Regions from separate parts of the Homo sapiens genome. Here region 2 is linked to region 1. The links come from fine-mapping of genetic effects on gene expression. A gene starts in region 1. The other region holds a variant in brackets. All regions are shown on one strand. Distances are between the middles of the regions. Region 1 holds the start of SLA (Src like adaptor). Region 2 overlaps TG (thyroglobulin).

The links.
Region 2: its variant is fine-mapped to the expression of SLA in whole blood (TOPMed, PIP above 0.99). The same link has a PIP of 0.9 or more in CD4 T cells, NK cells, T cells, Th1/17 cells, Th17 cells and Th2 cells.

What each region holds. Positions count from the first base shown.
Region 1 is chr8:133,099,283-133,104,660 of GRCh38, forward strand. It overlaps SLA (Src like adaptor), which reads right to left and starts at 3,320. Exons shown (of 9, transcript NM_001045556.3): 1 at 3,271-3,320. All of the region lies in intron 43 of TG (thyroglobulin), which reads left to right.
Region 2 is chr8:133,046,801-133,052,178 of GRCh38, forward strand. The region is part of intron 41 of TG (thyroglobulin); the gene reads left to right. It overlaps SLA (Src like adaptor), which reads right to left. Exons shown (of 9, transcript NM_001045556.3): 4 at 4,016-4,115; 5 at 3,102-3,188; 6 at 1,030-1,133. Among named protein-coding and RNA genes, the nearest start is that of MIR7848, 2.9 kb to the left of the region's middle. RefSeq lists an enhancer at 2,212-3,411. The variant T/G (reference allele first, on the strand shown) is at 3,226.

The DNA.
Region 1 (5,378 bases):
GCTTCGCTTCTTCATTCATTCCCTTGGGACACGCATTAGTGAAGCCACTGAGCAGCTTTTGTGAGCCTGCATCCTGCCAAGAACTCATCTAGGTGCTAATTGATGAGGAGGACTACCTGCAGCAGGAGAGTAGTGACGGTGGGACTGGAAGCCAGCTCACAGCTCAGTGCCACTGCATGCAATCATCTCCTAAACATGTGTCTGCACACAGATTTATTCCTCCTGGACTTTTCCCTTGAACTCTGAACTGGTTTAGCCAATGGCCCACTTGACATCTTCACTTACATGTCTCATAGTGTCTCATCCATAACACACCCAAAGTGGACTGCCGATTCCACCTCTGCTCCCATCCCCAACCAGCATGTTCTTCTGTAGTCTTCACCATCTCAGTAAACAACTCAGCAACTAAACAACTCATCCTTCTGTACTCAGGCTCAAAACCAAAAGTCATTCCTGACACTGCTCTCTCATACCCTACCAGCATTCTATCAGAAAATCCAGCTGGCTGTATTTTCCAAATGTATCCCAAATCCAAACCCTGCTCCCCTACCTCTTCTGCTATCACCCTGATCCAGCCACTTTATTTGAGATTTTTGTGCTAGCCCCCAACTCTCTCTCTGCACCTGCCTTGCCTCTTATAATCTATGAGAAGCACAGTAGCCAGAGCAATCCCTTTATAAGTCAGACCATTTTACTCCTCTGCTCCAAGCCTTCTCTCCAGTGGCCTCCTCTCATGCAGAGGAAAATTCCAGTCTTCTATGAACTGCCAGAGCCTATTTGATGTGACCTCTGTTAGCTCTCTGACCTTAACTCCTGCTGTTCCCTCTTGGCTCACTGGTTTATCCCTTTAGAGTTTCTCAAATAGGCTGAGCACATCCCATATCAGGGTCCTGGTACTTGCTGTTTTTTCTTCTGGAATGTTCTTCCCAGACAACTCACTGCCTTACTCCCTTCAGGGTCTGCTTATCAGAAAGACCTTGCTTGACCACTTGGATTCAGAGGGAAGCCATATCCCCAGCCTTCTCTATCCCTACATCCTACACCCTACCCCAGCACTCAAACCTCCTGCCATATTATGTATTTGTCTGTTGTCTTTCTTCCCCAACTAGAATGTTTGAAACTGCTATATCTCTGGTGCCTAGAAATGTTTCTAGTTCTGCTAGACAAATTGCACACAGCAGGCACACAATAGACATTCACTAGGATGAATGAATGAAATTATGAAGAACTGACTATGTGCTGGGCCCTAACCTGGAAGTCTTCAATGAAATAATTCACCCTCACAACTATTACCCTATGAGGTGGGGATTATTATTACTATTTTTCAGAGAGAAACCAGAATTAAAACCCAGTTCTATCTGCCTCCAAATATCCTCTTCCCATGACGTCACTCTGGGAAAAGCCAGGCTTTCCTCTGAGAGCCTTCCATCTACCATCAACGGTATGCTGGGTACTGAAATGTACACAAACCCAGCTAGAATAAAGGCTACTATGTGCAAAGGGCTTTCCAATTCTACCCACATTCTTTTTTTTCTGTAGTCATTTATTGATTTATTTATAATTTTAAAATTTCAATAGCCTTAGGGGTTAGCCTAAGTGAAGTAACTCATGCTCTTACTTTACGTTATCTCAACTGTATGGCTGTGAGGTAGGGAACCATGAACCAGTATTTAACACGATTTTTTTTCTGGGAAAGAAAGGCTTAGTGAGGTTTACCGGGTGTCTCTAGGTCAGCTAACTAGTCCTTTGGAAAGCCAAGTCTCCACTGCAGGTCTCTGACCCCAATTGCAGGGCAGGAGTGGGGAGGGTGGCGGGTGGCAGGCTCTACCCATTACCCTATCTGTGATAAACACTAGGTCAGGGATGCGCTATCACCACCTTACCCCCACCATACGCAAGCATCACCTAGAGAGATCCTCAGGATTCTACCCCACACAGAACTGCAAGAGGGCACAGTGGACAACCAAGTGGAAACTGAGTTATGAGCTATGCTCCCACCCTCCCAACAGTGAGGAAACTCCTCTGGACTTCAACCCAATGTGCCCTTGTATTGCCCTCCCTTGCCTCAGCCCACTCCCAACCTGAATTTAGAGTTGGGCTTGTGCATTTCTCTGTTTGCCCCAAGAAGGCTCCATGGCACCTGGGTCCAACCACCATCAGCCAAGGAGGACCTGAAGATGGCAGGTTCTGGAGGGCCTCAATCTCAGCCATGCCTTTTACTCCATCCTCTGTCCTTTGATACCCACCCAGCCCCTCCTGCCCCATCTGGGGCTGAGAAACAGGACATATCAATTGCAGTAAATTGCCACATCCACCTAAACAGGGTGTCCAGCATGTTTTTGTAACACCAACACCTGTTTGTTTAGTCATGCTGGGCCAGGTGTTTCAGCATAAAATACAAATTGAATTCCTCCCCTCAGAAGGGCTTGCAGTCAGATGATAACAGACAAGGCAAACAACTGAAACACCATTGATACATACTATATGGAGAGATGGACATCTATTCCAAGACCTCAGGAGGTGGAGATCAGGTGCCATTGGGCCCCATAGCAGCACTGTCAGCTGGAGTGACACAATGGCCAGGAACTGACCAGGACCCCGCTCCCTTGGTCATGTGTCAACACAGCAGGGAGAGTGTCCTGGGTGTCCTTGGATTGCAATCACGAGCATCCAAGTTACCCAGAGTCTGAGCCTCAGTTTCCCTATCTGTGAAGTTGGGAGATGATTAGTAAATATCCTCATAAAGATGTTCAAAAATTCAAATACACAACAATATCTGGAAAATAGTTTGGCTTCAATAAATGTTCGTTCTTTTCCCTTAATTTTTTAATTTTAATATTAAGATTAGTGTCCAAAGCTGTTATCCCTTCTTCAGATAATTATACACAGAAAGCAGGAATACAAAGAACGTCCAATCTCTGAACCACCTCAGCTGACCTGAGACCAATTTTCCAAATTGTAGTAAACACAAATGCATGCTCTCTACTCATGCCAACGCTGCATAAGTATCAGCTGGATCCCAGTCCACAAACACATGCAGTGCAGCTTCCCAGGGAAGTCACGGAGGGACAGGAGTGGAGCCTCTTACCCCAAGTCCTGCCCCCTGGAGCTACTCACCACCAGCAGAGACCCACCCATTTTCTTCAGACCAAAGACGGAGGGTGGGTACAGGATCCATCAAGTCCCTCTGAAGACCCTCCCCCACATACCACCCCAGGCCACCTATGGCCCACCCAGGGGGTCCCAATGACAGCAAAGTTAGCAACCTACCGGTGGAGCATCAGGGCTGCCTGAGATGTTCTCCATTCGCAGCAAATGATCTTATTTTCTGAAGTAGCAGCTTTCTATTGAAATTCTTCATCAGTCGCTGTCATGGGGAATTTCTCCCCCTTTTCTCTTTCTTTCTAACTGGTGAAATTGACAGTCTGCCTACATTATCCAGGCATTCATTTGCATGATCAAAAGCAGATTTGTTCCAAGATGCAATGTTCTGCCTTCCCTTCCAAGCACAGGCATCTCCAAGGAAGGCGAGAAAAATCAGAAACAGAGCGCCTCCGCTGTGCCCCTAAGCTTGGCCAGGAGTTGGCCTCGTCTGGGAGCAGGTGGAGTGGGGGCCCTGTGGGTAGCAGTAGGGGGAGGGCAGCCCATGTGGGAGTTGGAAAGCAGCACCTGGCAGCCCGAGGCGCTGGCACGAGCCCCAGCACAGGAATATCCAGTCTTTGGTGACAGATTATAGTAAGAGGAGTATGCAGGAGTTTCCAGTGTGTGTGTGATTTCCTGAAAGGAGGCACTGCTGCCTTAAATCCCCAGCACTCAGGGACGGGAGGGTGTTAGGGTCTGAACCCAGGGCATCGCGGGGACCTGGATTCAGAAAAATGGGTCACAATTCTTAGCTTTAGCCACACGATGTAGGAGAGTTGCTGAACTGGTCTGAGCTGCAGTTTCTTTAGCCTTCAAATGGACACAGTGAGAGCCACCCTGTCTGTCTCTTGCAGTGTTATAAGAAGCGAAAGAGGTATCTCCCAACACCCAGAGAGCCCTGTAGGTCTCATGGCTCTAGGATGCCCTTGCACACTGTAAACCCTCCACCCTGGAGCTATAGCCCCACATTACCCCTCACAGCTGACGCTTACACGTCACGTTGTCTAATTCTCCCCAGGGGCCCTGTGAGCTGGGATTATGGTTCAGAGAAAGCTGAGGATCAGAAGGACTGACTTGTCCCCCCCAAAATATTAAAATATTGTATTTCATGACTGCATTGTTATAAGGATGAATGTAAACCAGGCTGGATTCATTATTACATTTTCATTATTATTATATTTTTTCTTCTGATTTTAAAAGAAATTAGAAAGAAAAGACTTTTGTGAGTTCCTAAAAGTGCAGTGAGCCCTTGGCCCTGAGCAAGCTGTGCTTGATGGAGAAGTAAGTCCTTGTCCCTTAACACCATAAGGAGCAGTGAAGTCAGGAGTCATTCAAGCATTAACCCATGCAGCATCTCTCCAACATAGATTATTCAGAGGCTTCTGTGCGCTGGACTCTCTCTAGGCTTTAGAGGGCACAGTTGTAACCTAAACAGATAAAGCTTCTGACTCGGAGAGTTCATGTTCTCATGAAAGGACACAGATGATGTAAGTAAATAAAGAATTTCAGATCTTAGAAATGCCCTGAAGAACACTGAAGTGGGGCCATTGCAGAGGAGGCGATGGAATGGGGCAATTACTTTAGGGGCAGTCAGAGAAGGCTTTTCGGAGGAGGTGACTTCTGGACTGAGGCCTGAGCAATGGGGAGCCAGCGATGGGGATTGAGGTACAGAGTGGGTGCAAAGGCCCTGGGGCAGGAGTGGTCCTGGCTGTTTGGGGGTCACAGGGAGGTCAGTGCTAGGAGATCCAGTGGCCAGTGGAGGGACTGGGAGGAGAGGAAGTCAGAGGGATGAAGAAGACCAGTTATGAGATCTTTCAGGCCATCAGAAAAGTGACTTTATTCTCCTTGCAGTGGGCAGTTACTGGAATGTTTCAAGCTAATAATAGAAGGTGATTATATTGATCCACTGTTTTAAAAAGGAACATTTCTGGCAGCTATATGGAAAATTGACTAAGGAGATGTGTGACCCAGGAAGTAGAGATCAGATTGGGCTCTATTGTGGAAATCCAGGGGTTGAGCTAGTAACTTAAATTAGGGTTGCAGACATGGTCACAGTAAAAAATGATCAGATTTGGGATATATCTCGCGTTGGCAGCTGACTATATGAGTTGGGAATTCAGTAGAGAGGTCAGGGCTGTAGATACAGCTTTGGAAGAAAACCAAGAAAATGCGGTATCACAATAGCCAAGAAAAGAAAGCATTTCCAAAAGGAAGCAAAAGTCAAATGTCACAGAGTC
Region 2 (5,378 bases), 52 kb before region 1:
GATTTTTTTTAAATCATATATATGTGGTCCCTGCTTTCTGAAAGCAAGGCTGATGCTCATTTTGGTGAAGGGCTCTAGCACCAGGTGGCTTTGGCACTTATTAGGTGCATGGGAAGTACTCTCAGATAGTGTGTTTTCTCTTCTTTGATATTGAATGTACAAGAAGCAAGCCAAGAACTTGAAGATACCTTCTGAATTTTAAAAAAGTTATTATTATTATTCAGTCTGGGAAAACCCTAGCTGTTAAGTATTTGGGGATAAACATGGTACTCTCCTACTGTAAATCTCATGGTCTAGATCAGGGAGCTGAGGCTTAGAGAGAGAGAAGCAGTAAATTAGTAATTTGTAAGGCTAAAATTGGAACTTGGGACCCTTGCTTTGCATCATGACAAAGAGCTCACTCTATTTGTGTTTTTACTGTGGTACTTAATGCATATGATGCAAGGAAATTGTAATGCTAGTGATGATGGTGACTGTGTGAGAGGACACATGTGATTCTCGGAGCTGTCTGATTTAGTTACGGAGCACAGAGGAAACTGATATCGGGACTGTCTGTGCAGCAAGAGCAACACAAATACTATGACATTTGAATCTCACCACACCCTTACAAGGGAGAGGTGTTCTCTCCATTTCACAGATGAGAAAACTGAGTTCAGACAAATCAGTCACAGAGCTTGAGAGCACAGCCCAGGCCCATACCAAAGGCCACATTCTATCTGCACAGCATGCTGCCTACACACTGCGTTCAGTTTTGTTCTCAGTTGCTGGAAAAATTTCCAGCAGGAGTCATCAGGCCTGATGTTGGCCAGGCCCGTGGCAGTGCCCAGCCGGCTCCCCACTGCCTGTCTCTAGTCCCCTTGCTTCCCCACTGGCCTCCCCAGCAGCGTGTGGGCTGCAGGGAGCTTAACTACATTGGATCAATTTGCATGGACGTAGGAGGAAGGAAAATGAAGCCGTGTAATGAGTCAGCCAGGAGCAAAACATGCTTGTCTGCCCCGGATGGGGAAAGATGAGTTGGGGGCCACTCACCTTTCTTGGTCTCACTCTCTCTGATCATGAAGGAGCCGACCTTTGTGTCTGGCAGCTGCAGCAGCTCCTCGGCCTTGTCTCTGCCCAGGCCCTCAAACAGCCAGCTGGGAAGGAGGAAGACAGCCATTAGGATCCGGAACAAGCCCTCCCCCAGGAAAGGCAGGAATGCGCCACCCACCGTACTAAGCACCTGAAACCTAATCCTCACCTCAACCCACTGAGACAGGAAGCATCATCTCTCTTCCACAGATGAGAATACTGAGGGTTCCAGTGATTAAGTAGTTTGCTCAGGAAACCATGTCAGCAGTTGATAGAGTTAAAATTAGAATGCATTTTTCTGGGACATCCAATTCCATAACCACCTCACTTCACTGCTGCTCTTCCTTTTATTTATGTAATTTTTTTTTTGGAAATGGATCCCTGCTCTATCACCCAGACTAGAGAACAGTGGCGTGACCTTGGTTCACTGCATCCTCCACCTTCCAGGTTCAAGTGATTCTCCTGCCTCAGCCTCCCAAGTAGCTGGGATTACAGGCATGCACCACCACGTCTGGCAACTTTTTGTGTTTTTAGTAGAAATGGGGATTCACCATGTTGGCTGGGCTGGTCTTGAACTCTTGACCTCAAGCCATCTACCTGCCTCGGACTTCCAAAGTGCTGGGATTACAGGCGTGAGCTACCGTGCTCAGCCCTGCTCTTCCTATTTGATATGTTAAGGGATGTGATCACCTCTGTTGGATTGGTAGCCTCATAGGGTCATAATTATGTCACTCCTCCTGGTTCCTTACCACCCCCAGCTCGTGCCAGCTGCAGCCTCACATCTTCAGCATGAAGGCATTGATGCATGCTTGCTAGTGAATGAATGGCTCCAGGGCAAGCAGCTGATGTAGGAGAGTCACGTGACTCCCATCTCTTTCAGAACGTGACTCCCACGGCAGCTCCTGCTTCAGTTTTGTTTAGCTTCATCATCCTAAGCATGGAAGTGGCATCTGGTATTCACAATTAAGATCATGAATACTAAAATTAAACTCGCAGAATTCCAGTCTTCAAAGGATTCAGGTGGTTATCTCTGTTTTGCAAGATGAGCATGTGGCATGTAGAGTCCTCTGGACATGAAGAAGTAACTTAGTGTTTATCAATGGATGCCTCCTTCTTTCTTTTCCATTTCCAATGTGCTTTGCATTTCTTTGCCAACTTCCAGCTTCCGACACTTGACAGATGAGGATAATGTAACTCCAGGAGGTGAAGCGACTTTTACAGGACCCTCACATGGAAGGAAGGAAGCCAAGATTTGTGCCCAGGTGTTCAGGGCTCCAAAGCCACCCAGGAGGCTGCAGAGGCCTCACTGGAACGACTACAGGGGAAAGCAGGGTGCTTATTTTCTTATCTGTTGAGCCTAGTTTTCTAAGATATCTCTTGTTTATCTTACCCATTTTTCAAGGAAGGCACATAAGCATTTTTGGCAGTAAGGATTCTGTGTGTTTCTGGATAGGTATTTGATTAGAATAGAGCTAATATTTATCGAGTGCTTACTGTAATGCCTGGCATTGCTCCAAGAACTACACATGTATCATTACATCTTATTCTCCTAACAACCCTACACTTTGATCATATTATCATATATTATTATCCCTGTCGTTCTATGTTATGATCTCTACTTGACAGGTGAGGAAAGGGAACTGATGCATAAAAAGCTTGTTCACTGGCACACAGCCAGTAAGTGACAGAGGCAGGATTTGAACCTAGACACACTGACTTCTAGTCTCTGCACTGTGCTGTGCCCTCCCATAACATTTCCCAGCTGTTTACCACTCTGTGCCAGGAGCACCATGTTAGAGCTGAAAGGTCCAACTTCCTTCATTTTACTGAGGGAGAAGTTGAGTCCCAGAGAGCAGAAGAGATAAGTTAGCCCAAGGTTGCTCCTTTCCTTATTGACTGGGTTGGGAGCAGGACTATCTCTTCTTGACCCAGTGCCTTCCTTACCACTATGAATGCTGGAATCTTTGTTCCACCTTATGAGTCACCAGCATACGCATCATGCTTAATTGCTGCCATTTGAGAAATGTACTCACCCATGGTAAACTCTGGCCACACATATTCCAGGGATGTAACTCTCTCGACCAGTGCTAAGAGAAATAGCTTTCCACCAGCCCCCTTCACTGTAAGAACAAGAACAGAGAAGAACACAGAGATAGG[T/G]AAATAGCAAAACCAAAGGATGAATGAACAGAGTAATCAGATTTAACCCAGGACAGTTTGGAACATTCCTCTTTTAAGATCTGTCACTGGCCACGTTAACCCATATTTCGTCATCTGAAAATTTTCTTTTTAAAGGATATGTGTCCAGTGGATAGCCCTCCATTGCAAGCCAACTGGTAAACCCTCCCATGTGCTAGAAATAGCTGCTTTTCAGGGATTAGCAGCTAATGTTCCCAACTGTTGGAGGCTTTTTAAAAATAAATGTTTACTATGTTGATTTATGCTCTGCAGTATAGCCAAAGATAGTTTCATATATCTGAATCAGTGAAGATCTAAATAAAAGGGGCTTAGAACTTCTGTCATGTTCTATAGCCCATATTGAATCAGACTGCAGAGGTAAGAGGAGAGAAGGCAAATTTTTGTTTTTTCTCATCCGAAGGATTTCCAGACCCTGGGGGCTGCCTTCCCGGTCTTCATTCCTACATAACATCAACACTGCACATGTGGTGGGAGATAAGAAGAATATGAGAAGAGGCTGGATCATAAAGGATCTCAAAAGCCAAGTTAAGGAATTTAAATTTGATCTACCAGGCAGTGGGGAGCTATGGAAGGTTCTAGAGCACTGGCCACATTAAAGAGGAAGGTTGCAGTATGGGTCAAATTTCTCACCTCATAATAGGACCAGGACTCATGTGGAACTAGACCACTCTAGCTAACAATCAAATACTTTTCTCCCAAACCAAGTTTATCCTGCTTTGAAGATTGCACAAGTTTTGGAGAGCTGACTCACTCAGAAATCACACGCAGTTTCTCCCCTCGGCGGAATATCGGGGGGCTGATGTCAGGAGACGGGTAGTCACTTAGCACGGCAAGGAAGTCGCTATCCAGTCCTGGGGAAACAAAGGCAAGGGGGAAGGGGGCAAGGTGCTTTTTATTCACAAGGAGCTTAAAGGTAGGCTTGGGAGGGAGGGTATGAAGATGAGATTTTCCAGCAGGAAATACCTTTCTTGTTTTGAACCACCAATTTACAGCAAGGTCCTCTCTTCAGAGATGGCTCTGCAGGGTGTGCGTACGAGCCCTGAGGGTCAGGTGACATGCTCCTATTCTTAAGCCTGCCTTGGCCCTCATGTTCTCATCTGAGAAATGGGATCCAAAGGCTGTGAGATGAGTCATGGGGTCTGGCTTCAGCGCCTGTTACGAGTCTACTAGCCTCACCCTCTCCATCTTTAAAATGGGACTAATACTACCTCATTCCAGGGTCCTTAGGAGAGGAGATGAGAGTATGTTACACCACATACGTTCACATAAGTTGCTGTAAAAACCCCCCTTCTCACTACCAATGCCTCGGGTGTCCACTCTGGGACTCAGAGTTGTTATATCTATGACACTTTTGGGGAAGGAGTGTGAGGCAAAATGAGTTCTGAGGACCCATTAGGACCATGAGGCAGTAACTCTGAGGTTAAACAAAATACTTATTTCTTGCAGAATATAAGGCCCCACGCTGGGCATCTATTTAATAGGGACATTTGTTGAGGGTGGGGGTGGTGGAAGAAAAACTTAGTACTTTTCCTAATAGTGTATTGAAAGGAATTCTGGTGAAGTTTTGAAAAGGAAAGAGGGCTGTCTGGTTCCTGACTGTAGAGGAGAGACAGTGATTTTGCTTTTTGACACTGAGCGATACGTCTGCTTCTATCCTTAGTGATTTGATGTAATTCAGATGCATTAGATGCAGGGTAATATTTGGATACATTTTTGGGGGAAATAACAAGATGTCTTCTGTATCAGCAAATACAGTTATTATTTGCTATGACTTTCATCACTCCACCTGCTGGCTGGGACTTTGAACTTAAAATTCTGGGTAACATCACCTGTTTATTCATTCGGCAACTACTTACTGAGCACCTGTCGTAAGCAGCATAGGTGAGAAAAGCAAGCCCATTCTTGCTGCTTTCACGGAGCTCATGTTCTACAGGATACATAAATAGTCATGGGAGGAACTGTTCCCTGGTTCGCTCACCCCAAGATCTGGAGAAATCCCAGTACTCAGGCATGTGGGCTTTGGGGCCCAAACAAGCCACTTTCTAGGATCCACACACCTCTAGATCCTGCCTCTTACAACTCATATGTCTTGCAGCCTCCGAGTCATAAGCCTC